Linked DNA regions of Homo sapiens: region 1 is linked to region 2. The links come from fine-mapping of genetic effects on gene expression. Tissue or cell type: whole blood. Region 2 holds a variant in brackets; the other region holds the start of a gene. All regions are shown on one strand. Distances are from middle to middle.

What was found. PIP is the estimated chance that this variant, and not a neighbour inherited with it, causes the effect.
Region 1: SOX4 starts here. The variant in region 2 is fine-mapped to the expression of SOX4 in whole blood (TOPMed, PIP 0.94).

The regions. Positions count from the first base shown.
Region 1 is chr6:21,589,272-21,595,498 of GRCh38, reverse strand. It overlaps SOX4 (SRY-box transcription factor 4), which reads right to left and starts at 1,748. Exons shown (of 1, transcript NM_003107.3): 1 at 1-1,748. The coding sequence starts at 964. RefSeq lists silencers at 1-47, 98-187, 958-1,137 and enhancers at 6,135-6,184, 6,195-6,227.
Region 2 is chr6:22,309,586-22,318,080 of GRCh38, reverse strand. No RefSeq gene overlaps it. Among named protein-coding and RNA genes, the nearest start is that of PRL, 17 kb to the right of the region's middle. RefSeq lists an enhancer at 3,772-4,326. The variant G/C (reference allele first, on the strand shown) is at 3,676.

The DNA of each region.
Region 1 (6,227 bases), 720 kb after region 2:
GGGGGTCGCTGGGGTCGGCTCCCGCGCCCACGCCGCCCACGGGCGACGACGACGTGCCCAGGCCGCCGAACAGGTAGACGCGCTTCACCTTCTTCTCCGCCAGGTGCTTGCCCGGGGCCGCGAGCGCTGCGGAGGCCGAGGCTGCCGAGGAGGCGGAGGCCGAGGCGCTGGGAGTCCGCGCCTTGTACAGCGAGTGGTGGTCGGCGGCGGCGCCCAGGGGCAGCAGGGCGGCGGCCCCCGCCTGTTCGGCGGCGAAGGAGGCGGCGGCGGCAGCCGCTGCTTTCCCGCCGCCGCCGCCGCCTGCCAGGATGAGCTTGGCGTGCGGTTTGCTAACCCCACCGCCCGCGCCGCCCGCCACTTTGGAGCCGCAGCTCTTTTTCTGCGCCGGTTTGGAGTTGGCGCCGCCGCCACTCGCACCGCCGCCTCCTCCCCCCGCGTTGCTGCTCCCGCCGCCGCCGCCGCCCCCATGGCCGCCCCCGCCACTGCCACCGACCTTGTCTCCCTTCTCCCCCGGCTTGGAGGAGGCGGCGGCCGAGGAGCTGGAGTTGGCGTTGCCGGACTTCACCTTCTTCCTGGGCCGGTACTTGTAGTCGGGGTAGTCAGCCATGTGCTTGAGGCGCAGCCGCTCCGCCTCTCGAATGAAAGGGATCTTGTCGCTGTCTTTGAGCAGCTTCCAGCGTTTGCCCAGCCGCTTGGAGATCTCGGCGTTGTGCATGTCGGGCGACTGCTCCATGATCTTGCGCCGCTCGATCTGCGACCACACCATGAAGGCGTTCATGGGTCGCTTGATGTGCCCACTCGGGGTCTTGCACCAGCTCGGGTCGTCGGCCTTGCCGCCCGTGGAGGCGGTGGAGCCGGGCGTGGGGGAGGAGGCGATTCCCAGCTCGAGGCCGGCGCCCGAGTCCGAGCTCTCGCCGGCCAGCAGCGCTTCCGTGTTCTCGGCATTGTTGGTTTGCTGCACCATGGCCTCGGCTCGGCGGGCGCCCACGCGCGCTCACACCCTCGCGGCGGCCGCCGCGCGATCGCCGGGCCCTCCCGGTTCCCCGGGCCAAGCACACGCCGAACGGGAAGACGCGCGCGGCGGCCGAACTGGCCCCTCAACTCCTCGCAGGGGCGGAGGTGGGTAAAGAGAGAAAAGTCCCCAAAAGATTTGGGGAAGGAGTTCTCCGCCTCTCGCAGAGGAGTTATAGTTCCCAGGCTGGAGAGTCTCTCTCTCCCTCTCTCTCGCTCTCTCACCGCGCTGCAGTTTGCTGTCTCTCGGCTGAGTCTGGAGACCGTGCTAAAGTAGAGAGGAGTTTCTCGAATGCTGGTTGCTGAAGCTTCCAATGCAAGTTTCTCGCGGCCTCCCAGGCAAGTCTTTTTTTTTTTTTTTTCTTTTTCCCTGAAGCAGTTGATTCCAGTTCACGAGCGCTCTCGGTAGCTCAGGAAAGCGACATAGTCTCTAGCACTTAGTCCCTCTCCTACAATGCAAAGCAAAAAAGACTGTGGCTCCAGGACTCTCTGTGGGCGGAATCGGCACTAAGGAGTTGGTGCAATTATTTTGTTGCAAGGTAGGAAGCCAAAAAGCCTGCATGCAACAGACTGGCATGAATAAATGTATGTTTCCCCCTCCCTTCTGCAAGAAGGGAGCTGGTAATGGCAGGAGTTCCTCCAGTGCAGACTCTTAAAGAGCGTGCAAGAACTAGAGACCCGACAGCGAAACAGGCCTCTTCCCCTCACACACAGTTTCTCTTGCTGCAGCTTAGAGCAGACCCCAATTCCGCCTCGCGCCTCTTTATCCTTTCACAGTCTTGGCTGCAGCCAATCAGCTGCTGTAACCAACGCTTCCTCATGCCAAACCCCTCCCCCGGGCTTCCCATTGGCTTGGAACCCGATGCAATAATAATCTCCGCGTGCAATGAGAAGCTCCAAATCTGACCTCATTCCAATTTACAGAGCAAACTTTTTAAAAGGGCTAGAAGTACAGCTGAGATTTCTGCTGCCTCTTTTTTCCTTTTGCTGTGTGTGTGCGCGCGCGTGTGTGTGCGCGCGTGCGTGTGTGTATAGTGTGTGAAGAGGATGTTAATGCATGAAATTATTAAGGGGAGAGACGGAAATGTATTCTAACCATTATGTTAGATAACAAGGGGCTTGGAACGGGGCGGGGTAAGGGTGAAATACTGTAAATGGAAGCTTTCTGCTTAAAAGCCAAGTGATTATTTTTATTAGTTCTTTTCAGCATTGGAATAAAGAATCAGCCTCTGGTGCAAAATCTGTTCCCCAGCTCTTTCTTAAAGCCAAAGCTGTAAAGGGGAAGAGAAAGCCACAAAACAATAAATCAATGGATATTGAAAACCATTAAGAAAGTGGTACCTAGACACCTGTCATCACAATTATTTTAACAACTCTAGGTACAGCACAGATGTTGATGTATTGTGTAAATCCCTTCAGAACCGTTTTTGTGCTGTTTGTGGAAGGCAGGGAAGAGGACTTTGCAATAATTGCTTACTCTCTTAACCAAGCAAGGGTCAACTATGGTTATTTAATGATTTAAACTCCCTGTAAATCCTGCATAGCCCAAACAGGGGAGCTTTCCCTTGAAACACATTAGGTAGTGCTCCGTAATTACCTCAATAGGCAGATTTCCAGAGTTTTGTATAGGATGTATAATGGCATGTAAAGGATGGAAATCGGTTTTACTTTCTAAATATTTGTTTTCCCTGTTTTCAAAATTAAAGATTGCTTCACTCTCTTCCCTCTCCTCCTCCCAAAGCCATCTTCCTCCTTTCCTTCTTATATATTTCCTCTTGTTACTTGAATCGAAGGGAACTGAAAAACCAAGGCAAAGAGAAACTGTAGAAGGAGGTGATAACTGGTAGCAGAAGAGAATGGGGCCTCCGGATTCATAGTAGACCTGGCTGCTAATCCTTCTTAATGGTTTGTAACTATGGGGATGTGGCCAAGTCTCAGTTTTCCTCATCTATTATATGGGAACACTAGGAGCTACTTTATAGAGGGTTGTTGTGAGGGTTCAATGAATTTGTGACTATGAAGCACCTGATGTATTGTAAGCCCTCAATGAATACTAATATCTTCCTTTCTAATTCAAATGCCAGACACACTCCTAGTAAAAGCTGCATGTTGTTCAAGAGGCTAAAACAGAATAGCCACTTATGTAAAAAAGTAATAACAGGCAGGACGCGGTGGCTCACGCCTGTAATCCCAGCACTTTGGGAGGCTAAGGTGGGTGGATCACTTCAGGTCAGGAGTTCGAGACCAGCCTGGTCAACATGGTGAAACCCTGTCTCTACTAAAAATTAAAAAATTAAAAAATTAGCTGGGCAGGGATGCATGCGCCTGTAATTCCAGCTACTCGAGAAGCTAAGGCGGGAGAATTGCTTGAACCCAGGAGGTTGCAGTGAGCTAAGATTGAGCCACTGCACTCCAGTGTGGGTGATAGCGTGTGACTATCTCAAAAAAAAAAAAAAAGTAATCACAGATCATTGATGTGAACCATAGAAGGACAATAGTGGCAACCCTGCCATTCCATTGATTTTAAAAGAAAGGAACTCCATGAAGAATACTAAGAAGAATGTGGCAAAGAAAGGATGCCAAGGTATTCAAAATAAACGTTGGCTACAGAAATTACTTGTTTTCCAGTGTCTGAAAATTAGAATTGTAGTAAAAATCAGCTTTCCTTAACACTATAATAGGAAACTAATATTCTTCAGGCTAACCATAAGTGGTTAGGTAAAGTCAATCCAAAATAATTAAGTCGGCTTTTGATTCAGATTAAACTAGTGCTGGGTAGTAAATTTCTATGTATCTTGTCAAACTTTTAAAGTATGTAGGCTGGCAATAGGCCCAGGTTGTCAGACTTAGAATTTTACTGGAAAGAACACCCTATGTAGCCATCTGACTGGATCTGTAAGGATCAACCACAAGCAAAACTGTTTTTGTGGGTAAAAGCAAATAATTTTTGACGATTAGCTACTTGTATTACATAATTTTTTTAAAAAAGGAGAAACAAATCCTTAAAAAAAGAAAAACCCAAACCAAAAACACACAGGCACCTTTTTTGCATAACAGTGTTGCTGTGTTATATACTACATTTTCTCTGGTGTGCATAGAAACACATCCTTAAATGTTACCAATCTGACAAAAAAAAATTATTTTAAGAGGGCTATTATCTATAAGATCAATATTTTCACTAGAATAAAAAAGAATATTTATTTTTGAATTTGTACTAACTAATGATTTGAGGGTGTAGCTAGTTTGATAATTCAGTCAAGTTGAGTATCAACATTATTGATTATATTTCTCAGTCATTTATGCTTCCATCATCGAATATGATAGGGAAGAGTGGAAGTTAAAGCAGTCATATATGTTTCTGCTTAAAACACATGGATTTTTTAAAGGGTGTACTAAAACACAGCCACTGGCCTCATTCTTTTGTTACATGTATTTTCTGTATTTCAACAAATCCAACAAATTTTAAGACACACCATTATATTACATTCCACCAAGGAAGAAAGCTGCCAATGAAACTGTGATATCCCCCTAGATGTAGGATGCCTCCTTATTTCAGGAAGAGTTGAAATGAAAAGAAAAATTTCCTCTTAGACTTGATGAAATATGGTATCAGTAACTTCCATTGACTTTATAATTACTGCATATATATTTATATATTACACAAGTGCCTAGACTTCTGAAATAGATCTGTTCTAATGGGTTAGTTCTCTTAGAATGTAAGAAAACATATGACGAATGCCCTTTTATTAAAGTCATCTTTGTGACCAACTAAGTGTGTGCACACTGGAATGTGTTGGACCTCTCAATACCAAATAATGAGAAAAGATTTCTCCCTTCTCATTCCCTAACTTCATATGCTCTGTAATCAGTTCTCCATTACTGACATTTTTTTCCCCAAATACCAGATATTTGGTGGCCCCTACTAAATCAGTACGCAGTGTTCCCTCTGCTGGCTTTGCAGTACATGAAGTAATTCTTAATGCTAGTCTTTTAGCTGTATTAAGAGAAAGCCAAGATAATTTTGCAGAAAAAAAAAATCCTGGTTTAGAATAATAAACTGTCTTTGTTAGCAATGATGTTAGACATTTCCAATTTTGAATTAGGTATTTTATTTTATTCCCTTAAATGATGGAATTCCATTTGAGATGTAAGTGTAATATCTGCTAATGCATTTCTTCTGCTCTCACACATCTACACAACATAAAATCTCACATCCATACAATGGTATGGGGCATAGATGAAATAAGATTCTATTCCACTGCTTAATATATTCCTTTGGCATGGAGGGAGGGACCTGAATGGAAATTAGTTTAACAAATCTGGATTTGCACTGATTTGCAAGATTTTGCCTTGCCTTGGTTATAGAAACTATGATTGTAGGCGCTAGTCAGACCTGACAAGTATTCAGTTCAAATAAAATAAAGAGGAGGAAAAACTGTGTAGTTGTTACTTTACCTGACAAGGAAGAAGCCCTGGGAAATCTGATGTCATTGGCCTTTGTCAACTGAAAGGCGCCAGTTTTTTTGGTTCCACACTTTATGGAAAAGAAGCCTCCATGTGAGGCTGATTTACTTCTCAGTCAAGTAGACAAACATAACTTGCACTTCATCCTTTTGGGCTGATGACATTGCATTGTAACTGGGCTCAGCGCGTAATGGGGGTGGGGGTGCGTGCATTGAAAAATAATATATGGAAATAACTCATATTTGCAAAATATCAAAATAGGATTCTGGGGTAAATGAAACCTAGCATTTATTTTTATCACTAGAATAAGCTAAGAGTTAAGAAACCTGCATTTCTAACAATTGTACCATTTTCCTCTCATAACCAGTGACTAGCACACAGTAGGCTTAAGCTGTTCATGCCAATGCCAACTCATTATTCCTTTCCTTCGATTTTCTCAAGAAAACAAGCAGAAGACGAATGTTTGCAGGGCCACTTGGATTGCAAGCATGAATACAGGCTTCTGCTTCTATTCTAGAGGCAGAGGCACGGCACCCGGGGAGAGCCTGGGTTTGTCTGCAGCCAGCCGGCTCCCAATCTGGGGAGAAGCAGCCGCCAGGTGGCATCGCTGAGCCTCCCTGCGCCCGCGAGGCGAGGTAGGAAATCGTGGGGATAGTCAGTCTTCTTTCTTCTCCCCCTTCCTCCTCTCCCGACCCCCCTACCACTCCCTACCACTGTACCTTCTTTAGTTAGAGGCTTAAACGCTCAACGAG
Region 2 (8,495 bases):
TGCGTCTAGCTCAGGGATTGTAAACGCACCAATCAGCACTCTGTAAAAATGGACCAATCAGCTCTCTGTAAAATGGACCAATCAGCTCTCTGTAAAATGGACCAATAAGCAGGATGTGGATGGGGCCGGATAAGGGACTAAAAGCAGGCTACCCACACCAGCAGAGGCAACCTGGGTCCCCTTCCATGCTGTGGAAGCTTTGTTCTTTTGCTCTTTGCAATAAATGTTGTTGTTGCTCACTCTTTGGGTCTGTGCACTGCCTTAATGAGCTGTAACACTCACCATGAAGATCTGCAGCTTCACTCCTGAAGTCAGGGAGACCACGAACCCACCAGAAGAAAGGAACTCTGGACACATCTGAACATCTGAAGGAAAAAACCCCAGACACACCTTCTTTGAGAACTGTAAGACTCACCACGAGGGTCTGCGGTTTCATTCCTGAAGTCAGCAAGACCAAGAACCCACCAATTCCAGACACAATATAATCAGGGATAATAAGCAAGAGACATCAATAATATAGATGGGTACTTAATCATGAAAAAATGGTAGCACATGGATTATATCATTCCAGAGGATATGTATTATGACTGCTGTTTTTTATTACTTTTAATTATCTGGCTTATTAGGTTAATACCAAATACCAAAAACTAATACCGAAATAGAGGCACATGGTATTGAAGTTATGGTGATAAAGACAAAGACAGAAAATGTAATTAGAGTCAGCAGTAGGATCATAATGAGGGATGGCATAGCTTAAAAGACAAAGCAAAGTTCTCAAAGTTACTTAAGAAGCCAAGAACAAGCCAGGTGTGAGGAACAAGCTTAGTGTGTATACCAGAAACTGCCCAGAAGGAAAACTAAGTCCATAAAAAGTACAATGAAGGTGAAAGCCAAAATTTCGATGAATAACAGCGGCTGAGCAGGGTTTACGTAGATACTGAAATTCAGGAGCAGAGGCAGATCTGAGACCAACTACACTAATGAGTATCAGGAAAATCAAAGTACAAAAGGGCCCGAAAAGTAAACCATCAACAGGCTCTTTAGTCTCATCAAAAGAATAAGAGGAGACAAAGGGGAAAGCTAAAATACAAAGGCTGGTGCAGAACCAGAGGATGCTGAGGAGTGAAAGTTGGGGACTGGATGGACCAGGAAACAGAAGAGGCTCCAGTACCCAGAGTAAAAACTGACAAGCAATACTCACGTCTGCACGCTTCTGGGATCCACCACAATTTTAACACTTGTATACTATGGCATCTGCAAATGAAAGCAGGCAGAGATTAAATCTCGCTGTGACACTGAATCAAAGACAATAGTATTTGTCAGTTTATTTTTCTCATTAAACTATAAAAATCATGCATATTTATCCATTGATTATTGAAGTCTTCAGATTACAGTCTGGAAGAGCCATTGAGACCATCTTTGGTGATATATTAGCTAATCATATATGTAATTTGTTCATAAAGTAACATTTTCGGCCAAGCACAGTGGCTCATGCCTGTAATCCCAGCACTTTGGGAGGCCGAGGCAGGCGGATCACTTGAGGTCAGGAGTTTGTGACCAGCCTGGCCAAGATGGTGAAACCCCGTCTTTATTAAAAATACAAAAATTAACCGGACGTGGTGGCGCATGCCTGTAATCCCAGCTGCTCAAGAGGCTGAGGCAGGAGAATCGTTTGAACCCCGGAGGCAGAGGTTGCAGTGAGCTGAGATTATGCCACTGCACTCCAGCCTGGGCCACAGAGTGAGACCTGTCTCAAAAATAAATAAATAAATAATAATAACATTTTCATGGGACAAAGTTATACATTTGCTCATTTACCAATAAAATGATTGATTACATCAGGACCTAGGATATTCTGATATATTTATTGCCACATACAAAATCTACTTTAGATGAGACTCAAAGTGTCATATAAGAATATAATGCATATTTATATTTATGCACAGCACATATATATCTACACAGAAATACATGGGGACCTACCTATCTATGCTACCTGAACTATCATGCCGCTTTCCTTGCCACAATAAGCTCTTAGTATGTCAAGGGCTGTAATCACAACTCATTCTTTCTTTTGAGGGCCATTAATTTTGTTTTTATCACCTCATTATAAATAACAATGTTCTTAGATACTATGGCCATTCCCAATTGACTAAGAGTAGAGAAACCCTGGTAGGTGCTAATATTTTATCATTATTTAATTACTACTCTTCTAATAAATTGGAAGAACCATGATCAGACCTCATTAAGGATGATACAATTTCTTTTATCCATCAATCATTGCCCAGGCTAAATTCTTGCTCACTTAAGTCTTAAATTCTACTTATTTACAAAGATCACTAGCTACGTTATTTTTCTACCCTAAAATCAGCTCCTTAATATTGTTTTTCTAATTTTAGGGGCAAAAAAGTATACCAAGGTTTATTAAAAGTTGATGGCAGCTTGAAAACTAGTGCTGACCTGACAGTGGTAGCCTTGGCAGACATATTTTCAAAATTTTTTTCTCAGAGATATTTTTAATGAGGCTTTAAAAATAAGGGTATTTAAAACAAATAAGAATATTAAATACTTTAGATAGCAAAAAAATTTGTTTGTCCTCTGGTATCTTTTCTATAAAAAAGTAAAATGAGTAAATGGTTGTTGATATAGTTTGGATATTTGTCCCTGCCCAAATCTTGTGTTGAAATGTATCCCCCATATTGGAGATGGGGCCTGATGGGAGGTGTTTGGGCCATAAGGCCAGATCCCTCGTGGCTTGGTGCTGTCCTCATCATGGTGAATTTTTGTGAGATCTGGTTGTTTGAATGTGTGCCACACACTTGAACAATTCCCCCACTCTCTTGTGGCACACAATAAACCACCACCACCCCTACTTTTGCTCACTTGCTCCTGCTGCCACCATATGAGACACTTGCTCCCTGCTTGCCTTCCGCCATGATGGGAAGCTTCCTGAGGCTTCCCCAGAAGCAGATGCTGGCACTATGTCTCCTGTACAGCTTGCAGAACTGTAAGTCAATTAAACCTCTTCTCTTATAAATTGCCCAGTCTCAGGTACTCCTTTATAACAATGCAAGAACGGCCTAACAGAAAATTGATATTGAGGAGTGGGGCATTGCTATAAAGAAACCTGAAAATGTGGGAGGAGCTTTGGAACTGGTTAATGGGTAGAGGTTGGAAGAGTGTGGAAGGCTCAGAAGACAGGAAAATGAGGGAACGTTTGGAAATTCTTAGAGACTGGTAAAATGGTTGTGACCAAAATGCTGATAGTGATATGGACAGTGAAATCCAGGCTGATAAGATCTCAGATAGAAATGAGGAACTTAGGCCAGTCACAGTGGCTCATGCCTGTAATCCCAGCACTTTGGGAGGCCGAGGCAGGTGGATCATGAGGTCAGGAGATTGAGACCATCCTGGCTAACACGGTGAAACCCCATCTCTAATAAAAATACAAAAAATTAGCCGGGCACAGTGGTGGGCGCCTGTAGTCCCAGCTACTTGGGAGGCTGAGGCAGGAGAATGGCGTGAACTCGGGAGGTGGAGTTTGCAGTGAGCCAAGATGACACCACTGCAGTCTGGCCTGGGCGAAAGGGCGAGACTCCATCTCAAAAAAAAAAAATAATTAAAATAATTAAAAAAAAAAAAGAAATGAGGAACTTACTGGAAACTGGAGCAAAG[G/C]TCACGCATATTATGCCTTAGCAAAGAGCTCAGCTACATTCTGTTTATGCCCTAGGATCTGTGGAAGTTTGAGCTTAAAAGTGAGATTTATGGTATTTGGCAGAAGAAATTTATAAGCAGCAAAGCATTCAAGATGTGACCTGGCTGCTTTTAACAGCCTACACTCAAATGTGGGAGCAAAGAAGTGACTTAAACTTGGAATTTATATTTAAACAGAAAGCAGAACATAAAAGCTTGAAAATTTTCAGACTGGCCAAGTGGCAGAGAAAGAAAAAGCTTTTTCAGGAGAGGAAATCAGGCAGGCTGTGGAGTAACCACTTGTTAAAGAGATTTGCATAACTGAAAAAGAGCCAGATGCTGATAGCCAAGACAATGGGAAAAAGGACTCAAAGGCATTTCAGAGACATTCACAGTAGCCCCTCCCATCACAGGCCCAGAGGCCTAGGAAGGAACAATGCTTTTGGGGGGCAGGGGCAGGCTCAGGATCCCGCTACCCTGCAAAGACTCAGGACACTGCTCCCCACATCTTGGCCACTCCAACTCCAGCCATGGCTCAAAGGGGTCCAGGTATAGTCAGGCTGCCACGTTAGAGAATGCAAGCTATAAGCCTTGGCAGATTCCCTGTGGTGTTAAGCCTTCAGGCATGCAGAGTACAAGAGTGAAGGCGGCTTGATGGCCTCCACCTAGATTTTCAGAGAATATATAAAAAAGCCTGGGTGCCCAGGCAGAAGCCTGCTGGAGGGGGACAGCCCTAATAGAGAACCTCTACTAGGGCAGTGCCAAGGGGAAATGTGGGGTTGGAGCACCCCACATGGAGTCCCCACTGGGGCACTGCCTAGTGGAGCTGTGGAAAGAAGAGCACCATCTTCCAGACCCCAGAATTGTAGATCTACTGGCAGCTTACACCCTGTGCCTGGAAAAGCCACAGACACTCAACACCAACCTGTGAGAGCAGTGGAGAAGTCTGAATTCTGTAAAGCCAAAGGAGTGGAGCTGCCCAAGGCCTTGGGAGCCCACCTCTCCCACCAGTGTGCCCTGGATGTGGTACAAGGAGTCAAAGGAGAATATTTTGGGGCTTTAAGATGTAATGACTACCCTGCTGGGTTTCAAACTAGCATGGGGTCTGTAGGCCCTTTTTTTTTTTTGCCAATTTCTCCCTTTTGGAACAAGAAAGTTTACCCGGTTCCTGTTACCTCCTTTGTACCTTGGAAGTAAATAACTTGTTTTTATTTTACAGGCTCATAGGTGGAAGGGAATTGCCTTGTCTCAGATTACATTTTGGACTTTGGACTTTTGGTTAACACCGCAATTAGTTAAGACTTTGAGAGACTATTGGGAAGGCACGATTGTTTTGCAATGTGAGAAGGATGTGAGATTGGGGTGTGGGGGGTGGAATGATATAGTCTGGATATTTGTCCCTGCCCAAATCTCATGTTGAAATGCAATTCCCAATGTTGGAGGTGGGTGCTGGTGCAGGTATTTAGGCCATGAGTGTAAATCCCTAATGTCTTGGGGCTGTCCTCATAATACTGAGTGAGTTCTTTTAAGATCTGGTTGTTTTAGTGTGTTGCCACCCCCAACCACCACCATCCTTGCTCTATTGCTCCTGCTCCCACCATGTGAAATGCCTGTTCCCCTTTCACCTTCCACCATGATTGTGAGCTTCTGAGACTGCCCAGAGGCAAATGTTGGTCCTGTGCTTTCTGTATAGCCTGTAGAACTGTGAGCCAATTAAAGCTCCTTTCTTATAAATTACCTAGTCTCAGGTATTCCCTTATAGTGATGCAAGAACAGCCTAGTATAGTTTTTAAAATGCTATTGGAAATTATTTCTTATCCAACTAAAACACTATTTTATATAAAATAGATCATGATGATATGGTTTGGCTGTGTCCCCACCCAAATCTCATCTTGAATTGTAGCTCGCATAACTCCCAAGTGTTATGGGAGGGACCCAGTGGAAGATAACTGAAACATGGGGGTGGTTTCCCCCATACTAGTCTCATGGTAGTGAATAAGTCTCACGAAATCTGATTATTTTATAAGGGGTTTCTGCTTTCACTTGGCTCTCATTCTGTCTATCCACATCCATATAAGAAGTCCCTTTGCTCTTCCTTTGTCTTCTGGCATGATTATGAGGCCTCCCCAGCCATGTGGAACTGTGAGTCCATTAAACCTTTTTCTTTATAAATTACCCAGTCTTGGGTATGTCTTTATAAGCAGTGTGAAAATGGACTAATACACGTGGTTTATCTTATAACTATGAGAACATAGCTATTATTCAGTGTAGAATATTAAAATATTTGTTTTTGTTGGATTTCAAAGAAGCATTGGTTATCATCCTGAAATTTGCATGGACTTGAATCTCCTAGCATACCCTATCCTTCTGCTGATAACAATGATGAATTCTGGTGAAATAAAAGAAAGGAAGAAAGAAACAGAGAAGAGAGGGAATGCGAGAAAGAGGGAAGGAAGGAGAAAAGAAGGAATGAAACAAATGAAACAGAGAAAGAAAGGAGAGAGAATGAAAGGAAGGAAGCAAGCAAGAAGTGAGGGAGGAAAGAGCAGAGAAGAGGAGAAAAGGGAGAGGAAAGAAAGAAAGAAGGAATGGAGAGAGGAGAAAGGGGAAAGGAAGGAAAAGATAAACAAGCAGAAATCTACTTAAATATACTGGAGAGTGACACCAAAAGGAAAAAAAAAGGCAGAGGAGAGTCAACATTCAGAAAAAGGAATGGCAAGGATGATTTTCCAATATTGCATGGCTTTTAGCCAGAGGAGAGATTATAATAACAGCATTCACAGTGGCTAAAACTCTGGTAGGAACCCCAGAATTATTCTGGACAATTGTAGCCACTGAAAAGTGAAAGAAGAATTCTAGATGGGAAGAAAACAGAAAGGAGGAGGGGCCCAAAATTCCATGTATAAACTCTATGCAAATTTCTGGCTAAAGAGAGAAAGAGAGAGAGTGTGTGTGTGTGTGTGTGTGTGTGTGTGTGTGTGTCAGACTCCAAACAGCACAGCTGAACTGAAATTTTGAATTGCCACACATGAAATGGAGTTTGAAGTTTGAATCTTGTTAAATCGATTGCCAATTAAAACAAGCAAATGACAGTGATGCTCTTCAGGAGACCATAACAAAATCTAAAGACAACCTATATTTACAATGACAAGAATGCAATCCAAAATTACTTGACATATGAGGAAATAAGAAGTTGTCACTCATTATCAGAATAAAAGACAACAGAGTTCAAGCTATAGATGACTGAGGTGTTAGAACTACAAGAAAAGAATTTTAAAACAATCATCAATTATGATAAATGACATGAAGAAAAAAATGCTCATAATGAATGAAAAAGTAGGAATCTCAGCAGAAAAATGGAATGGAAAAAAACCTAATGAAAATTTCAGAAAAGTTTAGTACCTATATTTTTTTAAAAAATAATAGAAAGGGCTTAGCAGGAAAATGGGGGTGACAAAGTAAACAGTACACTTGAAGATAGGATCATGGAAATTATCTAACCTGAAGAAGAAAGAAAAAAATTGAAAAATGACCACAGCCTTAAGGACTGTGGGAGAAAAACAAAAGTCCAATTTACTGAAGAAGCAAAGAAAATGGGGCAAAAATATTCAAATAAATAATAAACAAAAAGTTACCCAATTAGTGAAAATAGTAGATGTACAGATATGACAATCTCCGTGAAACTCAAGCAGTATAAATTCAAAAACAAGCATGTCTAAGAACATAATAGTCATACTATTTGAAACCCAAAAAGAGAAAATATATCTGAAAGTAGCAGGAAGAAAACAATACATTACACATAGGAGATCATGGTTAGTTAACAAATGACTTCTCATCCTAAATTATGGATGCCAGAAGACATTGGCATAACATACTCAAAGTGCTTGAAGAGAAAAAAAATGAACTAATAATTTTCATCTAGCAAAGCTATCTCTTAACAATAAAGACAAGGGCTGGGCGCAGTGGCTCACACCTGTAATCCCAGCACTTTGGGAGGCCGAGGCAGGCGGATCACGAGGTCAGGAGATAGAGACTATCCTGGCTAACACAGTGAAACCCTGTCTCTACTAAAAATACAAAAAATTAGCCGGGCGTGGTGGTGGGCACCTGTAGTCCCAGCTACTCGGGAGGCTGAGGCAGAATGGCATGAACCCGGGAGGCGGAGCTTGCAGTGAGCCAAGATCACACCACTGCACTCTGGCCTGGGCAACAGAGCGAGACTCCATCTCAAAAAAATACATAAATAAATAAATAACAATAAAGACAAAATCCTTTTTTAGATTTTAAAAACTGACAGCATTTGTCATAAGTACACTTGTAATATAAGAAATGCTAATGCATGTTTTTCAGCCGAGGGAAAATAATAGCAGAAGTAAATTTGGACCTTTAGGACGGAATGGAAAACACCAGAAATGGTAAATATATAAAACTATTTTCACAGTCTGTGAAGAAAAACTGTAGTTTTTATGAGCTGCACAACATATATATATATATATATATATATATATATATATATATATATATATATATATGTAATCCATATGACAACTATAGTAGAAAGGATGAGGAGAGGTAAATAGACCTATACAATTGCAAAGTTGCTATATTTTATGTGACATGGAACATTATTAATGTTAACTAGCCTGGGAAAAACTATGGGTATATATTGTAATCTCTAGAGCAACTACTAAAATGTTGACAAGAACTCAAATGCATTAATATTCATTTTTAAGACAGTGACTGTCACCTCAATCAAATCTAAACAAGTGAATCAATTTAGTTCCAATAGAATAACCATTGGA